6 separate regions of the Homo sapiens genome follow, and all the other regions are linked to region 3. Evidence: fine-mapped expression QTL. A gene starts in region 3. Each other region holds a variant in brackets. All regions are shown on one strand. Distances are from middle to middle. Region 1 has its middle 130 kb from the start of VOPP1-DT. Region 2 overlaps VOPP1 (VOPP1 WW domain binding protein). Region 3 holds the start of VOPP1 (VOPP1 WW domain binding protein). Region 4 has its middle 12 kb from the start of LANCL2. Region 5 overlaps VOPP1 (VOPP1 WW domain binding protein). Region 6 overlaps LANCL2 (LanC like glutathione S-transferase 2).

Evidence for each region.
Region 1: its variant is fine-mapped to the expression of VOPP1 in whole blood (TOPMed, PIP above 0.99).
Region 2: its variant is fine-mapped to the expression of VOPP1 in whole blood (INTERVAL, PIP above 0.99).
Region 4: its variant is fine-mapped to the expression of VOPP1 in whole blood (INTERVAL, PIP above 0.99).
Region 5: its variant is fine-mapped to the expression of VOPP1 in tibial artery (GTEx, PIP above 0.99). The same link has a PIP of 0.9 or more in fibroblasts, spleen, visceral fat and whole blood.
Region 6: its variant is fine-mapped to the expression of VOPP1 in whole blood (TOPMed, PIP 0.98).

The regions. Positions count from the first base shown.
Region 1 is chr7:55,696,913-55,702,001 of GRCh38, reverse strand. It overlaps the pseudogene FKBP9P1. Among named protein-coding and RNA genes, the nearest start is that of VOPP1-DT, 130 kb to the right of the region's middle. The variant C/T (reference allele first, on the strand shown) is at 2,688.
Region 2 is chr7:55,528,239-55,533,314 of GRCh38, reverse strand. The region is part of intron 1 of VOPP1 (VOPP1 WW domain binding protein); the gene reads left to right. Among named protein-coding and RNA genes, the nearest start is that of VOPP1, 42 kb to the left of the region's middle. RefSeq lists enhancers at 789-848, 2,915-2,964. The variant T/AT (reference allele first, on the strand shown) is at 1,965.
Region 3 is chr7:55,569,794-55,574,793 of GRCh38, reverse strand. It overlaps VOPP1 (VOPP1 WW domain binding protein), which reads left to right and starts at 2,292. Exons shown (of 5, transcript NM_030796.5): 1 at 2,292-2,523. The coding sequence starts at 2,470. VOPP1-DT (VOPP1 divergent transcript) reads right to left here and starts at 2,028. Exons shown (of 17, transcript NR_187585.1): 1 at 1,477-2,028. RefSeq lists enhancers at 360-499, 830-909, 3,239-3,298 and a silencer at 2,059-3,038.
Region 4 is chr7:55,351,098-55,356,186 of GRCh38, reverse strand. No RefSeq gene overlaps it. Among named protein-coding and RNA genes, the nearest start is that of LANCL2, 12 kb to the left of the region's middle. The variant T/C (reference allele first, on the strand shown) is at 2,163.
Region 5 is chr7:55,469,747-55,474,830 of GRCh38, reverse strand. VOPP1 (VOPP1 WW domain binding protein) reads left to right here. Exons shown (of 5, transcript NM_030796.5): 5 at 1,786-4,218. The coding sequence ends at 1,976. Among named protein-coding and RNA genes, the nearest start is that of VOPP1, 100 kb to the left of the region's middle. RefSeq lists an enhancer at 1,192-1,858. The variant C/T (reference allele first, on the strand shown) is at 3,126.
Region 6 is chr7:55,433,215-55,438,302 of GRCh38, reverse strand. LANCL2 (LanC like glutathione S-transferase 2) reads right to left here. Exons shown (of 9, transcript NM_018697.4): 9 at 4,566-5,088. It also overlaps a transcript of VOPP1 not described here. Among named protein-coding and RNA genes, the nearest start is that of LANCL2, 70 kb to the right of the region's middle. RefSeq lists enhancers at 4,840-4,919, 4,950-4,999. The variant G/A (reference allele first, on the strand shown) is at 2,671.

The DNA of each region.
Region 1 (5,089 bases), 130 kb before region 3:
TTTGATTGGAATTGCTTTAAAATTTGTAAGTTAGTTTGGGCCAGCCGTGGTGGCTTAGGCCAGGCATGATGGCTTACACCTGTAATCCCAGCACTTTGGGAGGCCAAGGCAGGTGGATCACTTGAAGACAGGAGTTCAAGACCAGCCTGGCCAACATGGTGAAACCCCGTCTCTACCAAAAATACAAAAATTAGCTGAGTGTGGTGGTGCATGCCTGTAACCCCAACTACTTGGGAGGCTGAGGCAGGAGAATCGCTTGAACCCGGGAGACGGAGGTTGCAGTGAGCCAAGATCTTACCATTGCATTCCAGCCTCAGCGACAGAGTGAGACTGTGTCTCAAAAAAAAGAAAAGATAAAAGAACTTATAAGTTAGTTTAGGGGAGGACTGACGACTTTGCTTTTCTATTGGGGAACAGGATGGTTTTGCATTTACTTGTTTTTAACTTTTATTCAGCATTCACTACAATTCAAGCCCACCCCGCCATTCCGTCTCTCCTTCTGAGGCTCTTATATCCTGCCTCTCGGCTTGGCCCTTGCTGCCAGACCATTGCTCTTCCCTTAGGCAGATCCCACAGCCTTCGGTGTCTGCTATCTCCCCTCTGCCATGGAATCTTTGCAACTATTCCAGTGGGCAGCAATCCCCGCTGTGGGTACCTGCCATCTCTCTCACTACTTGGTGTCCCTTTGTCGGGAGCCCACCACGTAGGTATCCTTCTCTTCCCTGAATGTCTGGCAGTGGCTGCACATTGCTGGTGATCCCCAGGGTCCTGCAGGTGGGAACCTCGGGAGGGTGAGCCCTGCTCTGGCTGAAGCATGCTGGGAGCCGACACGGTCCTCCTCTTCCCTGCTGTGTTCCCCTCCAGGCCTTCCTGGCCAGTGCACCAGGAGGAGGCCTGGAGCTGCTCAGCGTGGGGTGCTGTTCTCAGTGGGTGGGAAGGGGGACTCACAGCCTCGTCTGGGAGTTTATGTGGACAATCTCCTGCTTCCTGGGTGAGGAGAGACATCTGTTGTGATTCTTTCTTTGTGCCCCATGACTTTGTGGTCTCTGAGGGGTATTGAGAAGGGAGAACCCCCACAGCTCTGCCTGTGTATCAGCCTGGCCCCGCTTGGCGGTCCCTCTTCTCCAGGGCATCATGCCCTGGCTTTGAGGTGAGGGAAGGGCAGGACCGATTGGCTCTTTCAGGACAGGCTTTCTGCCTCATCGGCACCAGGTGGTGTGGGGAAGGGGTGCAGGTCACGTGGTCCAGTTTGATAGTGGACTTGTGGCATATGAAGTTTTATTATTTTATTCTGGAATCATTATGCTGTGGGGAATTGATTCCTCTTTTTACCAAACTCATGGTAATAGACTCACTCGGCAGTTTACACACAGGCTGGATCTCTCCACTGAGTGGACTTGGGGCTCCTGCCAGGAGCACTTGGAAAACCCAAGTATTCACCAGGGTGGCGGGGTGAGCAGGGATGATAGTGGGGGCCTTTTGTCGGGCTGTGGTGGAGAGTGCGGAATTCATTACTCTCAGTGTGTATGCTGCTTTCCTGGCGATCGGAATCTTCATGTCAGGCTGGGTGCTATGGCTCAGGCCTGTAATTCCACACTTTCGGAGGCCAGCGCAGGCAGATCGCTTGAGCCCAGGAGTTCGAGACCAACCTGGGCAATGTGGTGAAACCCTGTCTCTACTAAAAATACAAAAATGAGCCAGGCATGGTATTGAATGCTGTAGCCCCAGCCACTTGAGGGGCTGAGGTGGAAGGATCACTTGAGCCCAGGAGGTTGAGGCTGCAGTGAGCTGAGACCAGACCACTTCACTCCAGCCTGGGAGACAGAGCAAGACCCTGTCTCAAAAAAAAAAAAAAATTAAAAAGTAATTAGAAAATAAAAACAGAATATTCATGTCCCACATATGCAGATATTTTCTCTTTAGATATTGGAGACATTATCCTTGTGACACATTCGTAGTTTCTGATAAGGGCTACGTTCGATTCTGTTTTTTGTTTTCAAGATAGGGTCTCACTCTGTCACCCACGCTGGAGTGCAGTCTTGTGATCTTGGCTCACTGCAACCTCAACCTCTCCGGCACAAGCAGTCCTCTGACTTCAGCCTCCTGAGTAGCTGGGACTATAGGTGTGTGCCACCACATCCAGCTAAGTTTTGTAATTTTGTAGTGACAGAGTTTTGCCATGTTGCCCAGGCTGGTTGAGAGCTTGATTGTTTTCATTAACTTGACGTGGTTATAGAGTGTACAGGCTGGGCACGGTGGCTCATGCCTGTCAACCCAGCACTTTGGGAGGCCGAGGCAGGAGGATCACGTGATCCAGGAGCTCAAGACCAGGCTGAGCAACATAGTGGGACCCCATCTCTACAAAAAAAAAAATTTATTACCTAGGTGTGGTAGCATGTGCTTGTAGTCTCAGCTACTTGGGAGGCTGAGGTGGGAGGATTGCTTGAGCCTGGGAGGTTGAGGCTGCAGTGAGCTGTCTATGATGGTGCCACTGCACACCAGCCTGGGTGACAGAGTGAGACCTTGCCTCAGAAAAAGAAAGTATAGCGTTCAATTTACATTAGCTCCATTTCTGTGTGGTGCTTCTCATAACCCACACTGCATTCATAACCTGACGAAACTGGAGGGCCACACGGCGTGTCTCTACAGGTGGCTGTTCACATGCTGTGTGGGGGTTCCTATTTACC[C/T]TTCCAGGGGAGCATGTTTCCTGGCTGTGTCATCAGATACTGTGGTTTACGCTGTTCCGGAGTCTGGAGGCCTCTGTGTGCCTTTGCATCTCTTTCCCAACTAATTTGCACAGCTGCTGTGGAGGCCCTCATGAATGACCTCTTTCTTTCCTTTCTTCTTTTCTAGCTACTCTCAGAACCGCACGTTTGACACGTACATTGGGCAGGGCTACGTGATTCCTGGGATGGATGAAGGTCTACTTGGTGTTTGCATTGGAGAGAAGCGAAGGATTGTGGTCCCCCCTCACCTGGGGTATGGAGAGGAAGGAAGAGGTGAGCATCAGCCTCACCTGCCTTCCTCACTAACTGTGGCTGCTTCCACATTGCTTGGAACAGGGCTTCTTTTTCTTTTTCTTCTTTCTTTTTGAGATAGGGTCTCCCTCTGTCGAACAGGCTGGAAAGTGTAGTGTGTGATCATCTTGTACTATGGCCTGAACTCTTGGCCTCAAGTGATCCTCTTGCCTCAGCCTTCGGAGTAGCTGGCACTACAGGCACGCACAACCGCACCCTGCACAGAGCTTCTTGAGAGCCAAAATATTGAAGCTAAAGTCCAGCTTAAGACTGGAATCCCCAAATAGGTTTAGTTTCTAGAGTTGTCCTGTTATTTCTCCTTGTTTCTCTGCCCATTTTCCTTTACCTTTTGAAAATGTTAAATCCTACACCAAAGTCGAAAGCACGTTACAGTGAATTCCACTTTGTGTTGCCAATTGTTAACATTTTGCTATATTTGATCTCTTTTTATATTTATTTATTTATTTTAGGCTGAGCCATTGAAAGTAAGTGCAAAAGCCCCTCTTTGGTTTTTGTTTTATGTATTATAGAATTCACCCATTTAAGTATACAATTTAGTGACTTTTAGAACATTTAGTGGGTTATGTAGCCATCACTATAATCCTGTTTTAGAACATTTTTGTCACCCTCATACCACACTTCCTTTTAAAAGTTACACAAATCATACATGTTGACTTAGGAAAAGAAAATACAGTTAAGCAAAGAAATCCTGCCACCCAGAAATAAATATTTTTTTTCCTTTTTTTCTTTTTTTTTTTTTTTTTTTGAGTCTCATTCTGTCACCCAGTCTGGAGTACAGTGGCACGATCTTGGCTCACTGCAACCTCTGCCTCCTGGGTTCAGGTGAGTCTCATGCCTTAGCCTCCCAAGTAGCTGGGACTACAGGCATGTGCCACCACGCCTGGCTAATTTTTTTTTAAATTTTCAGTGGAGACGGGGTTTCACTGTGTTGGCCAGGCTAGTTTCAAACTCCTGGCCTCAAGTGATCTGCCCACCTTGGCTTCCCAAAGTGCTGGGATTATAGATGTGAGCGCCATGCCATGCCAGAAATAAATATTGTTAATCTTAATCTGGTAGGCAGAATATTCAGCCCCTCCAAGTATCTATGTTCTAATCCCCAGAACCTGTGAGTATGTTACCTTACTTTATTTTGTTTTGAGACAAAGTCTTGTTCTGTTGCCCAGGCTGGAGTGCGGTGGTAAGATAAGCTCCTAACTCACTGCAGCCTCCAGCTTCTGTGTTAAAGTGATCCTCCTGCATCAGCCTCCTGAGTAGCTAGGACTACATGTGTGTGCTACCATGCACGGCTAATTCAAAAGCAATTTTTTTTTTTTTTTTGTAAAGACAGACATGGTCTTGCTATGTTTCCCAGGCCTGTCTGGAACTCCTGAGCTCAAGCAATCCTCCCACCTTGGCCTTCTGAAGTGCTGGGATGACAGGTGTGAGCCACCATGCCTAGCCTCCTGTTACCTTAATAAAAGGGACTTTACAGATTTGATAAAGGATCTTGAGATAGGAATAGTATCCTAGATTATCCAGGTGGCCTCAAAATACTTGCAACAGTCTTTGTAAAAGGGAGGCAGGCGGTCAGACCGGGGAAAAAGTGCTAAACTGCTGACTTAGAAGATACAGAAGGAGGACCCTGTCAGGGAATGAAGGTGGCCCCGAGAGGCTGGAAAAGATGGAAACACATTCTCCCCGGCAGCCTCCAAAAGGAACACATATCCCTAACAATACCTTGAATTTATGCTTCTGCCTTCCAGAATTAGGGGAATCCGTTTGCGTTGTTTTAAGCCAACAGGTTTGTGGTATTTTGCTGCAGCAACAGTAGGAAACAAATGCAGCCATGAAGTGAATGTCCTTCTGTACCTTTGAGTGTATGTATAGGTTTAAAAAAAAAATGCCCACCTACACTAATCAATACGGACAAACACGGGATTGTCTATGCGTATTACTTTGTGATTTCTCTCTTCATCCAATTTGTGGTGAACAACAGATACGTTGTGAACAACTTTCTATGCTATGTATTTTAATGGCTGCTCCCTCGCTTAGGAATAGTTGATGCAGTATTT
Region 2 (5,076 bases), 42 kb after region 3:
CTTGGGCACTGCCTTTCAAGAGCACCACACTGCCCCTTGCATGCACCCACAGACAACACTGAGTGACCGGCCTCCATCCTCACTGGTCTGACCTGGAGGCAGCTGACTGAACCAGCTTTTAGGAGGCACTCATGTGAGTTTGTGTTAAACAGAAATGATTGAGTTGATTGGGTTCAGGAGAGAGACAGAACTGGCATCAAAATCACCTTCCTGGCACATATGTTCTCAGTCCTCCTGGTTTTAGCTTAGGCCTCCACACTGCCAGAGACTCCCTGAAGATTTTCTGATACACAGATGCTGCTTTGGGGCAGCACGTGGAACTGACTCTCTTTCTCCCCAAATTTGCTGTAACAGCTTAGTCCCTTAACATTTATAACCAATCAATTCATGACAAGAAATAGAAAGTCTTCTAAGCACAAGAAATTGCTTTTTGACTCCAGGTTAAATATTACCAGATTTAATGAAAATGCATATTACTAGAATTGAGGGGGTGTGAAATTTGGTAGTAGTGAAAAGGAATGAGAGGAGTACACGTGGCAGTGCTTCCCAGTACCTTCCTGGGAAGAGAATGCTGACAGGGTGTGCCAGAAGCCATGAAAACTTCCATGGAAAGGGGAGGAGCCTCCCTCAGATTGCTTTGAGCTGTATTTTTCCACACCAGGGTATCATTTCCAAGCTGGTGGTTGTAACTAGTGTAGTTTCTAAACTTCTGTTTTTTGTTTGTTTGTTTTTCTGGTTCATTTTGGATCACAGGTTCCATATTCTCACTCTCCATAGAGACACAAAAGTACGTTGTAGAGAATGTTAACTGCATCTTTAGGTTGAGCTTTACTTGACCATGATTCTCAAGAATAAACCGACACAGCACACAATGTAACGACTTAGCAGGAGGCTCTTAGAATAGTGGGCATGCGCCAGGTGGTTCGCATACACTGTTTCATGTAAACCTCAAGGCAAGACAGAAATACCTCTCTCCAGTCTGTAGACAAAGAACCAAAGCTTAGAGACCTTCGGTGACCTGACCATGGTTGGGTCACTGTTCAGGCACAGAAGCAGGCATGCGGCAGGTGCTGTGTGTGTTTATTCTAGTAAGTCACATTGTCTTTAAATGTGGGTGGCACCATCATTTATTCAGCCTTTAGTCAGACTTTAGTCACATCTCAGCTTTTCAATTTCTTGTGCTCTTTACAGTTAGAATCTAGACTTACAGAAATATATGTCATCAGAGAATCCAACACACTTTTCTTCTAAAATAGAAGTCAAATAGGTAGGGTAGTACACAACCCAAATGCAAAAATCCTTATGCATTTTTTGGCATTTTGCCCTTGAAGCTGCTCCACTTATTAATCTTTCTGGGCATTTCTGTCTGCAAAAGGTAAGAAGTTGATATTTTCTCTTAAGTGTGGTGGTTGAGTTTTGGATCTGCTGGCCAAGATTTAGGCCCAACTGGAGGAGAGTAGTCTTTTGGTACATATCTCAGTTATTTCATTTTGGGGGCATAGTAGTTGGAAACAACAAGCCTGTTACTCTTCTCAGACATGTATGAGATCATCAAAGCCGGGTGCCCAAATCATAGACTAGGAGGTGGCAGAGCTGATCTGTTGACTTTTTTTTCATAATGTTACTCTTGCACTCTGCAATTACATCAAAAAAAGATGACTTTTTCTGGGCGCGATGGCTCATGCCTGTAATCCTAGCACTTTGGGAGGCCGAGGTGGGCGGATCCCCTGAGGTCAGGGGTTTGAGACCAGCCTGGCCAACAGGGTGCAACCCCATCTCTACTAAAAATACAAAAAAATTAGTTGGGTGTGGTGGCGCGTGCCTGTAATCCCAGCTACTTGGGAGGCTGGGGCAAGAGAATCGCTTGAACCCAGGAGGCAGAGGTTGCAGTGAGCCAAGATCGCACCACTGCACTCCAGCATGGGCGACACAGCGAGACTCCCTCTCAAAAAAAAAAAAAAAAA[T/AT]TCTGGATTAGGCCTTTAAGGAGAGCATTCAAAGGTTTGGTCCTGTTCATTGCTTTTGTTGGAACTGAGCTGATAACAAAGGTTTATCATATTCATTTATTGCCAGCAGATAACAGTAGCACTGATATTTCTATCTGTTATCGCTGCTTTCAGGCTATTCTAATGAAGTCTCCCACTCATGAGTTTTTTGAATGAATGATGTTTTGTGGCATTTGGAAAATTTGTCACATGAACCCTTTTGGCTGCAGGCCTTATATTCATTTTATATAGTTCTGTGCCTAAAATGGCACCTCTAAGTATTTTTGGCATCTAAAAAGTGATTTCTGAGAGTGAAAGGATGCTTCATGGTTTGCACCCTGGTGGGCTTTGGGCTCCTTGACTTTGCTCCTTTCCTTTCTCTTGTGGTTTGTTCCTGGTGGGCTGGCCATGCTGATTGCAGAGACAGTTTCCTTAGCAAAGCTGCTGGACACACTTGTGTTTGATTTCTGCTCCTGGAGATGCAGTAATTGACAGTGTTGAGAGGTGAGGAATGCTGAAAGGTAGAATTCCTAATAACTCATAAAAGGTTATTTTGGGGGCATGGAGATCGGGTCTTTCATGTGGATTCAGTCATTTTAGTTTTCTTCTATACAGCAAAATAATGCCTACAATAAATCTCATTCCTGTTCCATGCACACGATGTGACAGACATTCCAAAGGGTGGGTCGTGGATTATGATGACACAGAAAACTTCAGCTTGTAGACATTGCCACAGAAAGCACACAGACTTTGGAAACCAACAGACCTGAAGTCAAATGCCGACTTTCAGCTTGCTCCTGTGTCACCTTTGCAAGTCAATTCACCTCTTCGAGACCTTAGTTTGCTCTTTTGTAAACCACCTAACTCTCAGGGTTGTTACAATGTTAAGTGAGATTTCACATGAAAAGCACCTAGTGGATCACAGGCATTCCATGTATGGCAGCTACTGTTTTTTGCCTTCTGATTGAGCTGGAATGAAAAGAGTCTTACATCATTGGTCATTAGGGAAATTCCAATTAAAATCACGATGAGATACCAGTACAGTACTAGATGGCTAATATCAAAAAACAGATAATAAGTGTTAGTGATGATGTGGAGAGACTGGAGCCCTCTTACATTGTTGATGGGAATGTAAAGTAGTGCAGCTGCCTTGGAAAATAGTTTGACAGTCTCTCAACAAGTTAGGTAAGGAGTTACTGTGTGACCTGGAAGTTCCACTCCAGGTCTTGGAGTGGAATGTACGTACCCATTCCACTTTTCTTAGTATGTACCCAAGAAATTAAGATATCTGTCCATGCAAGGACCTGTGTGCAAATGGATATGGCAGCATTATTGATAACAGCCAAAATGCAGTATCAACCCAGATGTCCATAGGCTGGTGAATGGATAAACAAAATGTGGTGTCTTCATAGAATGGAATATTGTTCAACACTAGAAAGGAATGAATTGCTGATATATGCAGCAACATACAATCCAGACGTAAGAGACTGTAAGTTGTATGATTTTCTTTAATTGAACCTTATAGCAAAGGCAAGACTATGGATAAAGATAGAAAGCAGATCAGTATTGCTTGGGGCGCTGGGGTAGGAGTTGGAATTGACTGCAGAACAACATGAGGGAACTCTCTGAAGTGAAGGAAAGGTTCTGAAGCTGGATTGGGGTGTTGGAGGCACAGCTGTATACATTTCCTAAAACTCATCAAACTATATCTTGAAAATGGGTGATTTTATAGTGTATAAACTAAACCTAAGTAAATTGAGCTAGAACTTGGATCACCTGATCCTTCAAGTATCATGAATTGTGATTTATATTGATAATTATGTTTTAAAAGATAGCATAGTTTTCAGAACGCTTTTGTTCAGCAGGCATGAGTAGGAGCTCCTGGGTGCACATGTGTGTTGGGTCTTGCAGCGAATCCAGTCTTTTGCACTCATTGAGGACTCTTTTTTTTTTTTTTTTTTTTTTTTTGAGACGGAATCTTGCTCTGTCACCCAGGATGGAGTGCAGTGGCGCCATCTCAGCTCACTGTAACCTCCGCCTCCCAGGTTCAAGCGATTCTCCTGCCTCAGCCTCCCAAGTAGCTGAGACTACAGGCGAGCGCCACCACGCCCATTTTTAGTAGAGGTGGGTTTTCACTGTGTTAGCCAGGATGGTCTCCATCTCCTGACCTTGTGATCCGCCAGCCTTGGCCTCCCAAAGTGCTGGGATTACAGGCATGAGCCACTGTGCCCGGCCCATTGAGGACTCTTATGTGTCCCTTGTCTCTTGCCACAACAGCCTCTATCATCAGAATTGAAGGCTTCAGTAGGGAGATATTTTAAAAAGAAATCACACCATCCAAATATAACACTGTGAATTTAGGCTTATGCTGTTACATTCTTTCTCCTATGAATATGTTTATTTTTACATTGTTGAAATTAAATATATATAATGTGTCTTAAATTAACTATGACATAAACATTTTCCATGATAAACTTTCTATGAATACAGCTTTAATTGCTGACTCTGTATTTGTTTGAGTACACCCTTTCTAGCCTTGTATATTATTTCACAAACTTTATTATTTTTATTTCATTCCTAGCTGGAGAATGTTCTTTCTTGTTAACAGTTATATTTTCTTATTTTAAATATTTTTCTTTTTTTTTTTTGAGACAGAGCTTGCTCTGTTGCCCAGGCCGGAGTGCAGTAGTGCGATCTCAGCTCACTGCAACCTCCGCCTCCCGGGTTCAAGTGATTTTTCCTGCCTCAGCCTCCCGAGTAGCTGGGATTACAGGCATGCGCCACCACGCCCAGCTAATTTTTGTATTTTTAGTACAGATGGGGTTTTACCATGTTGACCAGGCTGGTTTAAATATCTTTTCATATCCAGTTTTCACTTCTTTTTTGGGTACTAAGTGGTCTGCATTTTAAAGTAAAATTGAATAGAGATTTAAAAATAAAATGTACAGGTTCCATACAGGAAACTTGGAGACTAACAAAATGTATAGTGGAAAACAATCATCTCTAGTACCAACTGAAACATAATTAGTTGTCAGTATTTCGGTACATGGCTTTCCATATTATTTTCTGTTTCCTATAATGTATAACAAAAAAT
Region 3 (5,000 bases):
ACAGCAGCCACTCTGCCTTTTATGCCACTGCTTTGTCTATTTTACTCAGGGCTGTATCCGAAATGTCCAGAATAGTGCCTGGCCCAAAACAGATGCAGATAAATATTTATTGAATAAATGAAATACATGTTCATCATTCATGTAGACTCCACAGTTTTGCAGGGAAGCTACAGGTCAAGCCCAGTCTCTCTCTTATTTGTTTCCTTTGGCAACACACATGCTCCAGGCTCTGGGTCCTTACTCCTCAGGGGCAGCTGAGCAGACCAGGACATGTCCAGTCCTGCCCCAAACAACTCATCAAGAACTTTCTTCTAACCCCAAGTCCAACTTTAACAGTTGTTCTAGTGAATGCAGCTTTATCTTGTAACTTTTTCAGTGGTATCTGATGCCCTTATAATTTGTGCTCAAGGAAACAGCCTGGCTGGTTAGCCTACACCCCATCCTCCAACCATGCCAAGCAACCACCACATCATTCAGGACCAAACAGAGAGCACACAGGAGAGGTATCAGACTGAGGTGAAAGCAGAGTCACAGTTCTAATTTTATTCTTGGAAAAAAACTTGCACAAATTACAGGAAGTCGAGCTCAGCAAAACAATCTTCCAGGCAGAGAGAGATGCAGAAGGGAGGTTATGTCAGACACTAGTAGGTTGCTCACAATGCAACAGAACCACAATTTGCACACGAATACATCGTGGACACAAGTCAAAGTTCCATTTTAACCCATTAATGATGGAAACAGTGGGATGACAAAGGTGCTTCAAAGGAGAATGCAGGCAAGTGACCTACACACACAGTCAAAAGCGGGGAGAAAAGAGAAAGGAAACGCTGGGAATGAAGTGGCTCAATCAGATAGGAAGCTGGTTATGATTCTCACCTTAAGCAGGGGTCATTTGTCTTATACACACACACACACACACACACACACACGTTTTAATGGAGACAGGTTCTTGCTGTGTTGCCCAGGTTGGGGTTGGTGAACTCCTGGGCTCAAGCAATTCTCACACCTCAGCTTCCCAGACTGCTGGGATGATAGGCATGAGCCACCCTGCCTGGCCCATTTGCATTTTTACAGGACGAGATCACTTCTATCCCCACTGGAAAAACATTTGTCTTGCTAACACACAATAAGCTTTCAGCTTAGTTTTCTACAAGTTAACTTTTCCATTAAAAAGAGTTGTAAAATGTCCTCATTGTAAATAGTAAAACTACTAGAGTTCAATGGCGTTTGGCAGGCTTGTCAGATAGGTGCCTTAGCATGACTGAAGGCCATAGGCATTGTTTCTGTCTTACTTGTAAGTTCTGGCTCTGACAGGTATAGTCAGGTGGTGCATGCTCTATATTAATCAAATTAGGCTTTGAAAGCTGGGAAAGAGTTGGGGACTTGCCTCGGGTGACATCTGTTCGTGTGACCCCCTCCTTCCACCTCCTGTACTGCGCAGCTCATGTCCTTTATGACCCTCTGTGATGCACCCACCTCCTGGTCTCCGCACTCAGCATTCTGCATCAGGTGGTTTAAGCGACTCTCCCTCCCTCTAGGCTACGGGAGCAGTTTTCTTGTCCTCCTCTCAGCCTCCAACTCAGGATCTGGTACATCTTACAAGTTTAATAGTGTTTGTTGAATAACCTCATGAAGAAGGTGGGATCTGAGCTGTGTTGTGAAAAAATAGTGTCTGTGAGGACATGGAGGTGGGGTCAGCGGAGGCGAGGACAGCGCGAGCTCCGCACAGTTTTCTGCTGCGGGAGGGTGGCCTGCAAGGCGGGGCCGGTTGCGGTCAAGTTCAAGTAGGGTCAGAGCAGGAGAACACTGGCATAAAAAATAGCCACATCCAAGGAAGCAGTGAGGTGTGGGGACCATCTATTTCGGTGGGCCTTCCCACCCCCAGGCCGGCCTTCCCATCACGCGTGGGTGTGGGGGCACTGCCCCCGCTGCGCGCAGGAACAGCGGGGAGAGCCAGGAGCGGAGCGGCTTCGGGATGCCAGACTGAGCAGTGGGTTCGTCTGCGGCCACCTCTCAGGGAACAAGCTTCCCCCCGCGGAGACTCTGCTTCTTTTAAAAGCCTTCCTGGGTTTAGTCTAGGGCGACAGGACGACCTCCCTTGGGAAGGGAGAGCCTGCCAGTCCCCCTCCCATTCGCCAGGCGGTGCAGCCCCTCCTCCCGCCCGGGGCGCGCGCACCTCAGCGTCGCGGGCCTAGCGCCCAGCAGCCGCGCCCCAGGCCGGGCCTCGGGTTCCGGGAGCCCGCAGGCGCGCGCCCGGCCGGGCGTGTCGGGAGCGCGCGGCGGCCGGGGGCGGAGCGCAGCCAGGGCTGCGCGGCGCGCCCCGGCTCCCGCCCGCTCCCAGCCGGGCCCCCCAGCGGTCGGCGGGACGGCTCCCGGCTGCAGTCTGCCCGCCCGCCCCGCGCGGGGGCCGAGTCGCGAAGCGCGCCTGCGACCCGGCGTCCGGGCGCGCTGGAGAGGACGCGAGGAGCCATGAGGCGCCAGCCTGCGAAGGTGGCGGCGCTGCTGCTCGGGCTGCTCTTGGAGGTAGGGGCCGGGGACCGGGTGCTGCCGGAGGCGCGGCGCCCACCATGCTGGCGGCTGGGGGCGCGCAGTTCCGAGGCGCCCCAGAGGACCTTGCCTGGGAGCGCAGACGGTGGAGCGACGGGGAGCCACAGCCCTGCGCGCCTCCCGGAGCTGGGAGGTGCGGGACCCTGGTGACGGGGAGGCTCCCGCCCCGGTCCGCGCCTTCCGTCGTTCCTTCGGTTTTCGCACCCCGCCCCCACCCTGCGGGTGAGCGCGTTTCCCGCGCCGACCGCCTCCGTTAGCTCGGGGTGACCTTTGTGCACCGTCCGCCCCCTCTCCCCGCCGCAGAGGGCCGAGGATCGGATGGACCCGGGGTTGGGCGGGGGTGGTCCTCGGGCGCGGCGCAGGCGCGGAGAGCCCGGGGCGCCGGGCAGTTTGGGGTTAGGAAAGGATGGGTGCCGAGCCGGGGTGAGGGGAGCGGGCGGAGGGGACTGTGGGGAAGTGTCGCGGGAGTGCCGGGAGTTGTGGAGGTGAGCAGCGGGAGGAGGCGTTCCCGCGTGTGAAAATGAAGTGCAGCCTTTAGGTGCGGGGAGGAAATTCTGCGGAGAGCCTGGCTGGGTGGGGGTGCGGAGCCGAAGCCGGCGGGGAACTTGTTGAGCGGCTTCCGGGTGCGAGCGCCCGTGACCGCATCCCTGGCGGGGACCGCGGCTGCTCCTGGCTGTGAAATTGCATCCTCGGATGGGGCCACATACTTCTCACTAAAGCAGGTTCCTTAAAATGCGAACTAGAGGAATTCTGGGGTGTCCAGTCTGAATCAGGGCTTGTTCAACTTTCTCCTTAGTTTCATTATTCTGAAGGAAATTTGCGTTAAATTAATGAAGTCAAAAGAAATAGGTAATGAATCCCATGCCTCTGTTTTAGGAAGTTGTGAAACTATCTTCCTTAATAGTTAGTGATTGGTGCTGGAAATTACTAGTTTGTCTTCGCCCTTTATTAAAAAGTAATTATTACAAAATGTTGGAGGAAAAGTGTTTCCTGAAAGGAAGGCTGGTGGACAAATTTCTCCTTGCTCCAGGCTCTGCCATAGCCGAGACTTCCTGTTTCTGTTCGGAAATATCCCCGTAGCTTGGTATTTAATGTTTTTGTGGAGTGCCTCTGCTTGCATTCTTTCCATTTATTCAGAATTTTAGAACCTTAGGAATCACATTCTCTGAGTGACTCACCATAGAGAACAAAGAAGTGAATCAGAGACCAGTAATCGCATGAAAACAGATGTGCTTGTACCTTAATGTGTGTACCTATACTTGCAATCTTTATTTTTTATTTTTATTTATTTATTTCTTTAGTTTTGAGATGGAGTCTCGTTCTGTGGCCCAGGCTTGAGTGCTGTGGCGCGATCTTGGCTCACTGCAATCTCCGCCTCCTGGGTTCAAGCTATTCTCCTGCTTCAGCCTCCCCAGTAGCGGGGACTACAGGCGCCCACCACTATGCCCGGCTAATTTTTGCATTTTTAGTAGAGTCGGGGTTTCGTCATGTTGGTCAGGCTGGTCTCGAACTCCTGACCTCAGGTGATCCGCCCGCCTCGGCCTCCCAAAGTGCTAGGATTACAAGGTGAGCCACCGCGCCCGGCCCTGCAATCTTTTTTAATCGGCACTTGATGAAATTATTTAGCGTTTCTTTCATTCTAGTTTGTGCCACCCATGTCTCCCAAGCCTTCTGTCTGAGTGGTTCTGTGCCCTATATGTAGCCTAGACGGCCTCAGTGACTCCATTCTTTCCAAAATAGCTGTTTCGTTGCATAGGAATGTATCCTCTTAATAGGAGTTCAGATCATGTCTGCAAAGTTGAAACGACCTTAAAGGCAGAAGTGTGATGTAAAACTGAAACCTAAATGCCTAAGATGATACTTTCACAGTCAAATATTAGATGATTGTTTCAGAGGGGACAGTGTGATGTCACCCACTTTGACATGATGATTATCCTAAGTACCACCACTTTGTGCTGGAGAGGCGTCTCTCTGAGGAGTTAAGGAGATTTCTTCATCATTTATCACATGAAATTTTATGTATGAGATTTATATTTGAGATTTTTTCATCTCTGGTGGGGTGCTCTGATGAATACCTGTGATGCTTCTGAAGTCCTGAATCACATACATGGATGTGCAGTCGTAGGTGTGGAGCATGTGCCATGGCAAATGGCTCTCTTCAGGTTGAGTGCATAAAAGCAACCCAGGGAGCTATTTGGTGGCTTCTGGCTTCTGACTGCCGGCTGCAACCTGGGAAATTTGTCTTTGTTCCTTTGTTCTGCCTGAGCTGGTTTCAGTGTATAAATTTGCCACGTGGTTGATCATAAACCACCTGAAATTAAGGGGTGGCCTTGTGGCAGTGGTGACTCTGTTCCCACCCCCAGCACCCTGGCCCTATCTAGCACCATCCAGAATCTCACATGCGCAGGGGTTTCTGTGTTAGTGAGAGGTCCTTGAGTAGGAAGGGCAATCCA
Region 4 (5,089 bases), 220 kb after region 3:
GTGGTAGGTGCCTGTAATCCCAGCTACTTGGGAGGCTGAGGCAGGAGAATCACTTTAACCCAGGAGGTGGAGGTTGCGATGAGCCAAGATCGCGCCACTGCACTCCAGCCTGGGCAACAGAGCAAGACTCCATCTTAAATAAATAAATAAACAAATAAATAAATATATATATATATAAAATAATGGCATATAGCTCAATATACACCTCCTGTAAATTGCATTATTGTTAGCATATACCTAACACCTACCTGTTATAAACATCACAATGCACTGTTATAATCTTTAAACATGTCTTTTTTTTTTTTTTTTAAGATGGAGTTTCCCTCTTGTTGCCCAGGCTGGAGTGCAATGGAGCGATCTTGGCTCACTGCAACCTCCGCCTCCTGGGTTCAAGGAATTCTCTTGCCTCAGTCTCCCGAGTAGCTGGGATTACAGGCATGCACTATCATGCCCAGCTAATTTTTGTATTTTTAGTAGAGACAGGGTTTCTCAATATTGGTCAGGCTGGTCTCAAACTCCCGACCTCAGGTGATCCACCTGCTTTGGCCTCCCAAAGTGCTGAGATTACAGGCATGCTGGGATTACCTCATTCAGCCTAAACATGTCTTCTAAAGAAATTAATAAAATAAAAAAGAATTCCAAACCTGGGTGTCTCCTTGACAGAGATCCTGTCTTTGGCCAAACTCTAGATAGGCTCCTCTGAGTTCTTTTTGGACTAAGACCCGTCCTTAGGCCTTGTCCTCAAGAGCCCAGTTGTAGCAAGAATCTCAAGTCAGTTTACTGTCACCTTCAATAGCTGATCAAATTCCTCATTCTCCACCAACTTCCCGGTGACCTCTGATCACCCTGGCCTGCCTTCAGTAGGAGTCCTGTTAGACCTCTGTAACCAGAACCCCCTTGCCCCTGATGTTTCTTCTTAATACTTTTCCATCCACTGACCTCCACCCTGCTCCTTGGCTATGTAAACCAAAAGGTATCAGAGACAAGGCTCAATCAATTTAAAAGTTTATTCTGCCAAGTTTAAGGATATGCCTGTGACACAGCCTCAGGAGGTCCTGACAGTATGTGCCAGGGTGGTTTGGCTAACACTTGGTTTGATACATTTTAGGGAGACATAAGACATCAGTCAATACATGGAAGATGTACACTGGTTCTATCTGGAAAGGCAGGACAACTCAAAGTAGAGAAGTGTGTTGCTTCTAGGTTACAGGTGGATTCAAAGAAGATTTCCTGATTGGCAATTGGTTGAAACAGTTTATCTAAAGACTTGGAGTGTCTGGGTTAAGAGAAGGGATGTGGAGACCACGGTTCTTATTATGCAGATGAAGGATTCTGGTAGCAGGCTTCAGAGAATAGCTTATAAATGTTTCTTATCAGACTAAAAAAGCCGCCAGACTCTGTTAATTCTCTCCTGGATCAGGACCAAGACCTGGAAATGGAAGGGGATTCCCTACAGAATGTAGATTTTTTCCCTACAAGAGATAGCTTTGCAGGGCCATTTCAAGATATGTCGAAGAAATACATTTTAGGGTAAAATACTCTGATTTCTTTCAGGGCCTGCTGTCGGTCAGGTGATGCTATACTAGAGTCAGGCTGGAATTTGGTATCTTATTGCTACAAAAAGTATTAAGATCTCTGTTTTTATGTTAATGCTGGTCAGTTGTGCCTGAATTCCAAAGGGAGGAAGGTAATCAGGCACATCAAACCCCCACTTCCCATCATGGCCTGAACTACATTTTCAGGTTAACTTTGGAATGCCCTTGGCTAAGAAGAGGGGTTCATTCAGATGGTTGGGGGGCTTAGAATTTTAATTTTTAGTTCACAGCTGTAAATTCCCACTTGTCTTTGCTGTATTCAGACTTGAGCCCAGTTGTATTCTGAGGCTCCTTTCCCCTATTGCAATAGTTCCTGAATAAAATCTTTACTGCTGTAACAACTGTCCAACTCTAGTTTTTCTTTAACAACCTGCAGTGGGAAGTAGATGAAATATCTATTCTTTTAGTTTTCATTTGTTACTTTTTTGCTGGCCCCACGGGGATCTTCCCCGTGTTTATGTAGTGAGGACTAAGCTCTGATTTTTTATCTTGCCCAACTTCCTACCTAAGGGGTCTAGGGAGTCATGCCCTACAAACCATAAATTCTCATCAGACGGGTTTTGACCC[T/C]ATATATTGTAACTTACTTTTTAATCTGACTCTGGCATAACATTATGAGACAAGAAAAAAACATTTAACCCCAAAATATATTTCCCTGCCATACCTTAAAATTGCCCTGCAATGTCTCTTGTGGGAAAAATCCACATCCTATAGAGAATCCTCTTTCCCCTTTGTTTTCCTTCCTTTCTTTCCAGATCCAGGAGATAATCAACTAAGAGCCAGGCTCCCTTTTAGGTCTAATAAGAAACATTTTACAACCTGCAGTCTCTCTGAAATCCACTATCTGAGAGATTTCTCTGTGCTGCAGAACTTGGTCTCCACAATCCTGTATCTTTTTTTTTTTTTTAGACGGAGTGTCACTCTGTCACCCAGGCTGAGGTACAGTGGCGCAATCTCGGCTCACTGCAACCTCTGCCTCCCGGGTTCAAGCAATTCTGCTTCAGCCTCCTGAGTAGCTGGGATTACAAGCATGTGTCACCATGCCCGGCTAATTTTTTTTTTTTTTTTTTTGAGACAGAGTCTTGCTCTGTCACCCAGGCTGGAGCGCAGTGGCGCAATCTCAGCTCACTCAAACTCCACCTCCCGGGTTCAAGCGATTCTCCTGCCTTAGCCTCCCGAGTAGCTGGGATTACAGGTGTACGCCACCACGTCTGGCTAATTGTTGTATTTTTAGTAGAGACGGGGTTTCACCAGCCAGGCTGGTCTCAAACTCCTGACCTCAGGTGATCTTCCCTCCTCGGCCTCCCAAAGTGCTGGGATTACAGGCATGAGCCACTGCACCCAGCCAATTTTTGTATTTTTAGTAGAGACAGAGTATCACCATGTTGGCCAGGCTGGTCTCAAATTCCTGGCCTCAAGTGATCTGCCTGCCTCGGTCTCCCAAAGCACTGGGATTATGGGCATGAACCACTGTGCCTGGCCCACAATTTTTTTTTTTTTTTTTTGAGACGGAGTCTTGCTTTGTCACCCAGACTGGAGTGCAGTGGCGCAATCTAAGTTCACTGCAAGCTCCGCCTCCTGGGTTCACACCATTCTCCTGCCTCAGCCTCCTGAATAGCTGGGACTACAGATGCCCGCCACCACGCCCGGCTAATTTTTTGTATTTTCAGTAGAGATGGGGTTTCACCGTGTTAGCCAGGATGGTCTTGATCTCCTGACCTCGTGATCTGCCTGCCTCTGCCTCCCAAAGTGCTGGGATTACAGGCGTGAGTCACCGTGCCTGGCCAGAACCAAACCAATGTATTTCTTAAATGTATTTGATTGATGTCTCATGCCTCCCTAAAACTATGTAAAACCAAGCTGTACCGCGACCACCTTGGGCACACGATGTCAGGACCTCCTGAGGGCTGTGTCACGGGCCATGGTCACTCATATTTGGCTCAGAATAAATCTCTTCAAATATTTTACACAGTTTGACTCTTTTCGTTGACTATAGTTTATCAAGTCAGCCCAGAATTTAGGCGGAGCTTATAATCAGATGTAAGGGTTTATTTCCTCTGTGGTTTTCTCCTTTCCAGGATTTCTTCATAACTTTCCAGCTGTTCTGCCAGTCTAAATTTTGTCATCTGACACATCAAGCCAGTAAGACTGAGGTTTCCAGCTGCACTGAGCTCCGTGTGAACTGGGGAGGACCTGGAGGCCAAATGCTGCATATGGCAAATCTTACACACTGTGGTTCCTGATTCTCATGGCCTGACTCCACTCTAGTTACTGCCTGCTTTTGGTCATGTTCCAGTGCCTGTAATCAACCTAAAATAATAATAATAATAAAAAGGTCAGACTCTAGTTTAAAGCAAGTTTATTCAAGTGCAAAGATTGAGGACAGGCCACCCAGGAAGCCCAGATTTCAAAGAACGGAAGTCAGTGCTCCAGAGTGTAGAAGTTTGGGATCGTTTACATGGACAAAGCTTAGGGCGCTTTAACAGAATTTCAGTGTCTTTCTATGGAAGACTTAATGTATAGTTAAAATACAATGATATGATTAGTCCAGATGGTACGTTTCTTTCAGGGAAAGGTATATTTAACATTCCACCCTGAAGATGTAACTGTCATGGGGTCTTGGGTGCCATTGGTCTGGGTTAGGAACTGGACAATAAAGACAGTTAATCTATAACAAAGATCAGTGATTGGAAGGGGGAATATCTGGTCTCTGGTCTCTCCTAGGCATTTACAGGAAAAGAGCAATGAGGAAGAGGGTTAAGCTATAATCTAAGAAGCGAAATTGCAAACATGCTACTGTCTCCAGAGCTTAACTTCCTTCCTTGGCAAAATAAATTTAGAGGGTCCTGAAATTTTATTTTATACTACACATTTTTGTCTTTTTACCTATTATGTTCAAATTTTATCATGTTATCTAGCAATAAATCATGAATGTTTTTCTGTCATTAAATACTCTTCTGTAACATAATTTTATTGGCTTCATATGCCATTGTATGATCTACGAGAATTTATTTTATCTATTATTAGACATATAAGTGTTTGTTTGTTTTAGTAAATAATGAAAAACAAGAAGATCTCAATAGCTACCACGTGGCTGCCAACTGCCCGTGTGGAGCAACACTGCCCTTCTTGGCTCTGGGCAGCTGTTCACACTGGACTGTGCAGGAGGCATCCCTGGGAGCACAGCTGAGGATGTGTGTGGTGCTCCCTGTGCTGCACTGTGCTAGGCCATGGCTAGCAGCCCCTGGGACCCTACAAGGGAAAAGGAGGACATGAAGTGCTTGTGTGACCAGAAAAATGTCCCAATCCAGACCCCAAGAGAGGGTTCTTGGATCTCTGCAAGAAAGAATTCCAGGCGAGTCTATAGAGTAATGGGAAAGCAAGCTTATTAAGAAAGTAAAAGAATAAAATAATGGCTACTTCATAGGCAGAGCAGCCCTGAGGGCTTTTGATTGGCCCTTTTTTTTTTTTTTGATCCACAGTCTCACTCTGTCACT
Region 5 (5,084 bases), 100 kb after region 3:
ACACTTCATGCTCCTCTCCTGGCCTCAGTGCTGCTCCTTCCTGCAGCCTTCTCCTGGACATGCCCATGTTTCCACCACCACCTTCCCACAGGAGGCTCCAGCTCCAGAGCTGCCTCCGCCCTCTCCAGTCCAGCAGGGACTTTTTCATCTGCCCCGCCCTTGTCCTGGTGCTGCTGTAGCAGTAGTGTGACCTTGGTAAGGCGCTAATTCTTGCAGAGCCCCTGTTCTCCTGTATTGCCCTGCCTGTTGGGGGGCCCTTATTGTGAGCAGAACCTAGGGCCTTTTCTTCTCAGCCCTTGTCTCCCACGCTGTGCGCTCCCCATCGAGTCAATCCCAGGCCAGTCATTGCCGACAGCCCTCAGTGCCTCATTCTCTCTTCTCCATTTTTTCTCTAATATTCAGAAGCCTTCATAATGTCTTGCTTAGACTGTTGCAATGCCCTCTTTTTAAAAATCCTTGGTTTTTTAATTGTATAACATATAGCAGGATCCAGATCTAAATAAAACATAATCTCTGCCCTTGCGAAACTCATGGTAATGGCAGTAAGTCGACTTCTAAATAGAACACACCCAAGGCAGCGGGTGAGATGCATCAGAGCAGCGCAGGTGGCATCTGTGGGACCACACGGCATCTCACTCAGGTGGTGTCTGTGGGACGGCACAGATGCAGGGCGAGGCAGCCTCTCACACAGGGTGGCATCTGTGCTGAGTGCCCTCCTGGCAGTTGAGAGCGCTCAGTGAGAGACAGTGCAGGCCTGGCCTGTGCTTCTGTTCTACATGCTCTCCTTCCGCACATGCGCAGATTCCCATGGTCTGACTTATGTGGGCTTTGGGACATCTTGTGTACCTTGATGGGCATGTTTCTAGAGTCAGAACTATATCACACTGTGTCAGGGGGAGAATTGCAAAAAAAGAAAAAAAACCCTACACAATATTCACACAGGGGCAGCTTCTTTGACACTTGAGTGTCTCCCTGAGCTAAAGGAAGCCTCACTTCAAAAACACCTGAGTCCTGTCACAAAATCAGCTATACCCAGGGAACACCCAGCACTTTCACGGTTTTGTCTGATTCTTTATTTACATATGCATAATTCTATAGTGTTAATCTGCATGATCACAGTAAGCACACTGAAAACAGCACCTCAGAGTGAGGGCTAGATTTGGGGTCGGGTGTCCAGCCTGTACCCTCCTGTCACCTTCTGTGGTGCCCCCGTGCCCTGCTCCTCAGCTTGTCACTAGGGAGTCAGCCTGCGGCTCCGCTCCTGACCCATGGAGCGTCAATCAGCTGCAGCCTGGCTATGTGTGCCCAGGTGCACGGCCTCCCTGCCTGTGAGTAACTCCTGCCCTGAGGGCACACTAGCCCGGCAGGGAGAATGGAGACCTTACTTCAGAAATGGTCACCAGCCAATGGCGTGCCCAGAGGGGTTGTGGAGCTCCTGCGATAATGCCAGGCTGAGTCGCGAAGCCTGGGTGGTCTTTGCAGCTCTTCCGATAGTTCACCGCAGACAGCCTCACCTTACTGTGGCCCAGTTTCCTCCACCCTAATGTGTGAACTGGTAACGTGGAATGTAGTCCAGTAGAATCAAAGCCCCGAGAGGGCAGGGACCTGCCTATTGTGTTGCTTGTCACCACAGCCCAGGTGCCCCCTCACCGGGCATGTTGGGTCCTTCATACACTGTCGCTGAGTGAATGACGGGGCGTGGTCTGCTGGCCCTGCAGCCTGCACATACTTGCGGTGTGATGGGGCTTTCCCTTCTGTGCTCACCTATGTTTGTCTGTCTTTCAGGAGCCCAGCAGCCGGGGCCGCCCTATTACACCGACCCAGGAGGACCGGGGATGAACCCTGTCGGGAATTCCATGGCAATGGCTTTCCAGGTCCCACCCAACTCACCCCAGGGGAGTGTGGCCTGCCCGCCCCCTCCAGCCTACTGCAACACGCCTCCGCCCCCGTACGAACAGGTAGTGAAGGCCAAGTAGTGGGGTGCCCACGTGCAAGAGGAGAGACAGGAGAGGGCCTTTCCCTGGCCTTTCTGTCTTCGTTGATGTTCACTTCCAGGAACGGTCTCGTGGGCTGCTAAGGGCAGTTCCTCTGATATCCTCACAGCAAGCACAGCTCTCTTTCAGGCTTTCCATGGAGTACAATATATGAACTCACACTTTGTCTCCTCTGTTGCTTCTGTTTCTGACGCAGTCTGTGCTCTCACATGGTAGTGTGGTGACAGTCCCCGAGGGCTGACGTCCTTACGGTGGCGTGACCAGATCTACAGGAGAGAGACTGAGAGGAAGAAGGCAGTGCTGGAGGTGCAGGTGGCATGTAGAGGGGCCAGGCCGAGCATCCCAGGCAAGCATCCTTCTGCCCGGGTATTAATAGGAAGCCCCATGCCGGGCGGCTCAGCCGATGAAGCAGCAGCCGACTGAGCTGAGCCCAGCAGGTCATCTGCTCCAGCCTGTCCTCTCGTCAGCCTTCCTCTTCCAGAAGCTGTTGGAGAGACATTCAGGAGAGAGCAAGCCCCTTGTCATGTTTCTGTCTCTGTTCATATCCTAAAGATAGACTTCTCCTGCACCGCCAGGGAAGGGTAGCACGTGCAGCTCTCACCGCAGGATGGGGCCTAGAATCAGGCTTGCCTTGGAGGCCTGACAGTGATCTGACATCCACTAAGCAAATTTATTTAAATTCATGGGAAATCACTTCCTGCCCCAAACTGAGACATTGCATTTTGTGAGCTCTTGGTCTGATTTGGAGAAAGGACTGTTACCCATTTTTTTGGTGTGTTTATGGAAGTGCATGTAGAGCGTCCTGCCCTTTGAAATCAGACTGGGTGTGTGTCTTCCCTGGACATCACTGCCTCTCCAGGGCATTCTCAGGCCCGGGGGTCTCCTTCCCTCAGGCAGCTCCAGTGGTGGGTTCTGAAGGGTGCTTTCAAAACGGGGCACATCTGGCTGGGAAGTCACATGGACTCTTCCAGGGAGAGAGACCAGCTGAGGCGTCTCTCTCTGAGGTTGTGTTGGGTCTAAGCGGGTGTGTGCTGGGCTCCAAGGAGGAGGAGCTTGCTGGGAAAAGACAGGAGAAGTACTGACTCAACTGCACTGACCATGTTGTCATAATTAGAATAAAGAAGAAGTGGT[C/T]GGAAATGCACATTCCTGGATAGGAATCACAGCTCACCCCAGGATCTCACAGGTAGTCTCCTGAGTAGTTGACGGCTAGCGGGGAGCTAGTTCCGCCGCATAGTTATAGTGTTGATGTGTGAACGCTGACCTGTCCTGTGTGCTAAGAGCTATGCAGCTTAGCTGAGGCGCCTAGATTACTAGATGTGCTGTATCACGGGGAATGAGGTGGGGGTGCTTATTTTTTAATGAACTAATCAGAGCCTCTTGAGAAATTGTTACTCATTGAACTGGAGCATCAAGACATCTCATGGAAGTGGATACGGAGTGATTTGGTGTCCATGCTTTTCACTCTGAGGACATTTAATCGGAGAACCTCCTGGGGAATTTTGTGGGAGACACTTGGGAACAAAACAGACACCCTGGGAATGCAGTTGCAAGCACAGATGCTGCCACCAGTGTCTCTGACCACCCTGGTGTGACTGCTGACTGCCAGCGTGGTACCTCCCATGCTGCAGGCCTCCATCTAAATGAGACAACAAAGCACAATGTTCACTGTTTACAACCAAGACAACTGCGTGGGTCCAAACACTCCTCTTCCTCCAGGTCATTTGTTTTGCATTTTTAATGTCTTTATTTTTTGTAATGAAAAAGCACACTAAGCTGCCCCTGGAATCGGGTGCAGCTGAATAGGCACCCAAAAGTCCGTGACTAAATTTCGTTTGTCTTTTTGATAGCAAATTATGTTAAGAGACAGTGATGGCTAGGGCTCAACAATTTTGTATTCCCATGTTTGTGTGAGACAGAGTTTGTTTTCCCTTGAACTTGGTTAGAATTGTGCTACTGTGAACGCTGATCCTGCATATGGAAGTCCCACTTCGGTGACATTTCCTGGCCATTCTTGTTTCCATTGTGTGGATGGTGGGTTGTGCCCACTTCCTGGAGTGAGACAGCTCCTGGTGTGTAGAATTCCCGGAGCGTCCGTGGTTCAGAGTAAACTTGAAGCAGATCTGTGCATGCTTTTCCTCTGCAACAATTGGCTCGTTTCTCTTTTTTGTTCTCTTTTGATAGGATCCTGTTTCCTATGTGTGCAAAATAAAAATAAATTTGGGCATGTGCTTTGATTGTTTTGTTGGGGGAGTGGGAAAGAGGGTGGAGATGAAGTTTCTAATGAGGAAGGGTGTACAGCAGATCCTTGGTTCAGTGGGGTGAGGTGGGTGGAGGATGCACCTGGTCTCAGGGGAACCAGAAACTAGATGTTATTTGAGAATGTAAGATACAAGCTATGGAGACAATTGTCCCCAGTGGGTAGGAAGACAGAAGCATCGCTGAAGTAATGTACTGTTGATACTGTAAGTTAACCTTGAGCTAGGGCTGTTTTTCACAGGTCGGGGAGCCTTCATCTTAAAACACAGCTCTGCTTGGTCAGAAATAACACTTCTCTCACAGATGCTGCTGAAGGGTGTAGCTGCTACAGTTAAACTGCATTTTAATTATTTATTTTTTATTTTATTTTGTGTTTTAGAGATGGGGTCTCACTGCGTTTCCCAGGCTGGTCTCAAACCATTGGCCTCAAGCAATTCTCCTACCCCAGCCTCTCAAGATGTATTTTAGATGTATCACTAATTGACATAATGTTTGCAAAGAAGCATTTTCTATTTTGCTTCCTTTTTGTTTTTTTAGAGACAGGGTCTTGTTCTGTCACCCAGCCTGGCATGCAGTGGTTCAATCATAGCTCACTGCAGCCTCAAACCTCTAGGCTCAAGCGATCCTCCCACTTCCCAAAGCCGTGGGATTACAGGCATGAGCCACAGTGCTTGGTTTATTTTTGCCTTCTTAAAGCATGGGTCCTAGAGCATGGTCCCTCCCCTAAAAGTCTGTAGAGCATTTGGGGATCACAACTGTGTCCATCCCTGGGAGACGGGCAGTGCACACAAGTATATTGAACAGTCTGAGAAGCATCTTAATGCTGTTTAATCC
Region 6 (5,088 bases), 140 kb after region 3:
GTAATGTCTGGTGCTGAGTAAGCACTTACTCAGTTGGATACATTAACCAGTTGGATAAATTAACATCCTCGGAGAGATAAGACACCAAAACCAAGAAATACAAAGAAGGGCCAGGCGCAGTGGCTCACACCTGTAATCCCAGCACTTTGGGGGGCCGAGGCAGACGAATCACCTGAGTTCAAGATCAGCCTGGCCAACATAGTGAAACCCTGTCTCTACTAAAAATACAAAAAATTAGCCGGGTGAGGTTGGGGGCGCCTGTAATCTGTAATCCCAGCTACTTGGGAGGCTGAGGCATGAGAATCACTTGAACCTGGGAGGCAGAGGTTACAGTGAGCTGAGATCGTGCCACTGTACTCCAGCCTGGGCGACAAGATAGAAACTCCGTCTCCAAAAAAAAAAAAATACAAACAGGATACTATATAAAAGATACACTGATATAAAAAATAAATTCCAGAAAAGAAAAACGAAATGAAACATTCAATAGAAGGACTGGAAGATAAAGTTGAAATCTCTCAGAAAGTAAAGTAAAAAGACAAAGGGGTGTAAAACAGAAGAAAGAAAATCAGGGATTATATTAAGAGGCTTAACATCCAAATAACAGGTGTTCAAGAAAAAGAGACAAGGACAGAGGGTGGGTGGAGGCAGTAAAGAAATAACTCAAGAAAATTTCCTAGAATTGAAAGACATGAATTTACAGATTGGAAGGGCCCATTAAGAACCAGGACTAGGCCTATTATCAGATGAAAATCCTACAACTTGCAAAACAATCATACAAAGCAAGATCAAATACAAAGAAACAAGAATCCCAATGGCTATGAAATCCCCACAGGCAGCAATGGAAGGTTTAGGACAGCAGAGCAATGCCTTGAGATATCAGTAGGATAACCAGTCGAGAATCCTTTAAGCAGTCAAACTATGATTTCAGTGTCAGAGCAGATGAAAGACATCTTTCTGGCACACAAGGACTCAAAATAAGTTCCTCAGCTGCTGTGAGGGAGCAGGTACTGCAGATGCTCCCAGCCCTCCTTACAGCTACGAGGCGGCCTCCGTGGGGACTCCTCGGGAGCCAGGCCACCTCTGGCTTGCCAAGAGGATGTGTGTAGGTCACCCTCTCTTATCCTGGGGATCACACCTAGTTTCCAGCAACTGAGCACAGTGTTTGGTAACTTCCCTGCCACCTCCATTAGGAATGGTCTGAAAGGCTGGCCTTGTCAGTTCTTGGAACTTTAGGAATACTTATACACTTACAGATGAATGTGTGATTATGCTGCTCGGGACACGTTTTATTCTCCTAGGGCAATACTTTAAGAGTGGGGTAATATCTTTATCAACATGTGAGCAGCAGCGTATCTGCTGGATGATCCTATGAAAGCCACAAGTTTCTCTTGTACAGTAAGGAGGAGGGTGGAGGGGGCCACAGAACCAGGGAAAGCTCCCTGGGATGCCCAAGAAAACACCAAAGCAGCTGACACCCTGGTCTCTCTGAATTCCTGGATTTTGAATAAGCCTGAAACTGTGGTTTAGGACATCTTTGCTCCTGCAGCATCTTTTCCTCTTGAAGGATCCTGGGGCAGTTACCAATTCACATATGCATGCACACACACGCATGCACATGCACACACGCACACGCACGCACACACGCACACACACCCACGCACGCACACACACGCACACACACACACTCATGCACACACACTCATGCACAATTGTCTGAAAGCCCAGGGCTGCCAAGCAGAGGACTGACACGGGGTTGTGATGAGGCATGAGACTTTGAAGTAGGACAGATCTGCATTTCCCTCCACGATGCAGGCAGGTGAGTGCTTCCTCACATGAAAGCCAATCACCGGCACCTTCACCTGCCCCATCAGAGCACTTACACGGACTAGAGGCTTTTCCCATTTGTCATTTAAATCCTCCCACCTACCAAATAAGGTAGATATTACCATTGTCCTGATTTTATAGAGAAGAAATGGAGGCTCAAGAAATAACTTGACCAAGTTCCCACAGGGAACAGGTGAGCTCAGAGGTGAACACAAGCTCCCAGGCTCCAGAGTCTCTGCTCTTAACACACACCACCCTGGGTTGGCTGTAAAATGTAAACATGTATTTATTACTTTCTTTGTAGACCATATACTCCTTGACGACAGGGACTACCACCTTCACCTTCATGCCCACAAGGTGTCACACTGCAAGGCTGAGCTGACCCCCACTTTCCTTTGGTCCGCCTCCTGCTGTTATCTGGAAGAGGCGTACAACATCCTTCACCCAGAAGCTAGCTGTCCTCACCTCACTGCAGAGGAACACTCCGGGGTCCTTCTGAGGGAGGCCCTCTGAGTCTGAGCTCAGCTCAAGGCTTCTGCCGTGCTGCAGAGGTTCCTCAGGCCTGATGCGATGCTGACTGAGGACAGGAGCCAGGGTGGTTTTTCATCATTCCACTCACAGCACTCAGCACAATGCCTGGCACAGTGTGGATGCTCCGTAAGCATTTGCTGAGCAGAAGAACCGAGCTTCCCACCTCCAAACGGGAGAGGGAGCTGGGAACAGTCAGATTTGTGAAGCCGACTGATCTCAGGATAGCCCCAGGCATCTGAGAGCCCCTGCGCCTCAGCCTCTGGGGAGCTGCAGCCTGGGTAAAACAGGATCATAAAGGAGCCCTGCCTCTGACAG[G/A]AGACAATGGATGGAATAGCCTTCCAGAAGCGCACTGGCCGGCTCACTCGGGGCTGCGTACTGTGCTGCCTGGACCACCACTTCCTATGCCCACAGCTGTGTACCAGGAAGCAGAGAAGAGGCTGACAGGCACCAGGGACTTGGTCACGCTGGACTTTGACACTGATGTGGAAAAGTCAGGACCTGCTGGCAGCATCTTCTACCACAGGAGGGGTCTTCCTAAATGCGACGGCACCTCCTGATCCAATCCTGCTGCCATGTCCGCCTCCCACAGCACCCCCGGCTCCATGCTTTGAAGCCCGGCTGGCCCACACACACTTCTTTACCCCCCAGCCTGAAACTTCACCTTTTTCGGGTCACACACCGCTTTGAAGCGGTAATGAAAACTGGGAACCCTCTCTCCATGTCAGTAATCATATGCACACAGAATTCTGCATGCAACGTAGTGGGCTCAATGCCTCCTGAGGACCACCAATGGTCCCATCCACATTACACATCCAGTCTCTCACCAGACTATGAGGCTCATGAAAGGTAGAGCCATAGAAGTCGCGGCGCAGAGCCTGGGCGGGAGTGGAGATGGTTTGTAAAGACGTCTTAGGGAACCTGGACTTTAAACTTGGACCATTGTATTTGTAAATTTAGCAAATGAAGCAACAGATGTGAAAACTGCCTAAGCTAAAAAGCAGTTTCAATTCCGACAAATGGCTGTAGGGTCCCTCCCCACCTAGAAGGCTGTGGGGGAGCAGATATGACAGGGCCAGAGGAAGCAGCCCTATATGGTCCGTCCTGCTTTTCTGTTCACTAGCCATGTGCTCATGGTCATGTCGCAGGGCCTTCCTGGGTTTCCGTGGCTTTCCTTCTGCATCGAGCACCCAGGGGAAGAGGGAGTGGGTGCAACTTAGCACCATGAGCAGCACCTGAGTCTGACCCGACTGTCCCACACGCGGGCTGTGAGATGCTGGGCAAGTCTGGCACTGTCTCGTCTGTGAGAAAGTGTTAATTACAACAGTCCCCCTTCCCAGTGCTGCTGTGAAAACAAAGGGCCCATCACAAGGAGGGAGCTTGATAGATGTGGCTCTTCTGACCCAGGGTTCCAAAGGTCTTGTTGTTGGAATCAAAAAGAATGTACTTATAGATAGAAACCTGCAACTAGGGCTGAGCGCAGTGGCTCACGCCTGTAATACCAGCACTTTGGGAGGCTGAGGCGGGTGGATCTCCTGAGGTCAGGAGTTCGAGGCCAACCTGGCTGATACGGTGAAACCCCATCTCTACTAAAAATACAAAATTAGCCAAGCATGGTGGCTCGCGCCTATAATCCCAGGTACTCGGGAGGCTGAGGCAGGAGAATCGCTTGAACCTGGGAGGTGGAGGTTGCAGTGAGCCAAGATTGCGCCATTGCACTCCAGCCTGGGAAACAAGAGTGAAACTCAGTCTCAAAAAAAAAAAAAAAAAAGAAAGAAAAAGAAACCTGCAACTAGAACATCATAAGGCGAGCAACTGCCACTTTTTTTTTTTTGAGATGGAGTCTCCTTCTGTCACCAGGCTGGAGTGCAGTGTTGTGATCTCAGCTCAGTGCAACCTCCAACCTCCACCTCCCCAGTTCACGCGATTCTCCTGCCTCAGCCTCCCGAGTAGCTGGGACTACAGTGTCCGCCACCACGCCCAGCTAATTTTTATATTTTTAGTAGAGATGGGGTTGCACCATGTTGGCCAGTATGGTCTCATCATCCGCCCAACTCGGCCTCCCAAAGTGCTGGGATTACAGGCATGAACCACCATGCCCAGCCGCAACTGCCGCATTTTTAAGTGAAGAATCCAACCTTCGGAACAGTCGCCATTGCTCCTAACCAATGTCACTCTCAAACACGGAGAAATGAAAACGAATGACGATTCCATAGGTCATCACCACAGAACTGGCTTTTACTAACAAAACCAAAGAACCTCAAACACTTTTTGTGGACTTCAAATTCTTTCCTTCAGATTTTAAAATGACATTATGCATGTACATATTTTTAAAATTTAGACACATTTTAGAGAACACAATTGTGAATACAAATCTAAGAAATGAATGAGATGTACTGAAATCTGATTCAAACACTTATCTTAAACTGACTTCTGTCAATCCTCTGTCCTGTGAAGTAAGTCCCGTTTCTCCTTTGCCTGGAGGGACCGAGCTGGAATTACTGTCACATGTTACAGACATGAGGCAGGGGTTAATGCAGAACCACGGAACAGCACCTCTGATGACATCTAGTGGATAAGTAGGAAGGTGTCAACCCAGGTGGCTTTTAAAAAAATCTGTAAATAAAATCTCCTCCTTTATTCCACAGATTTTAATCTTTCCCTCAGTGTGTTAGAAAGACTAATAGTGTTTTTCAAACGTGTGTGGATGGACTCACCTGGGGAGACACCCGCATC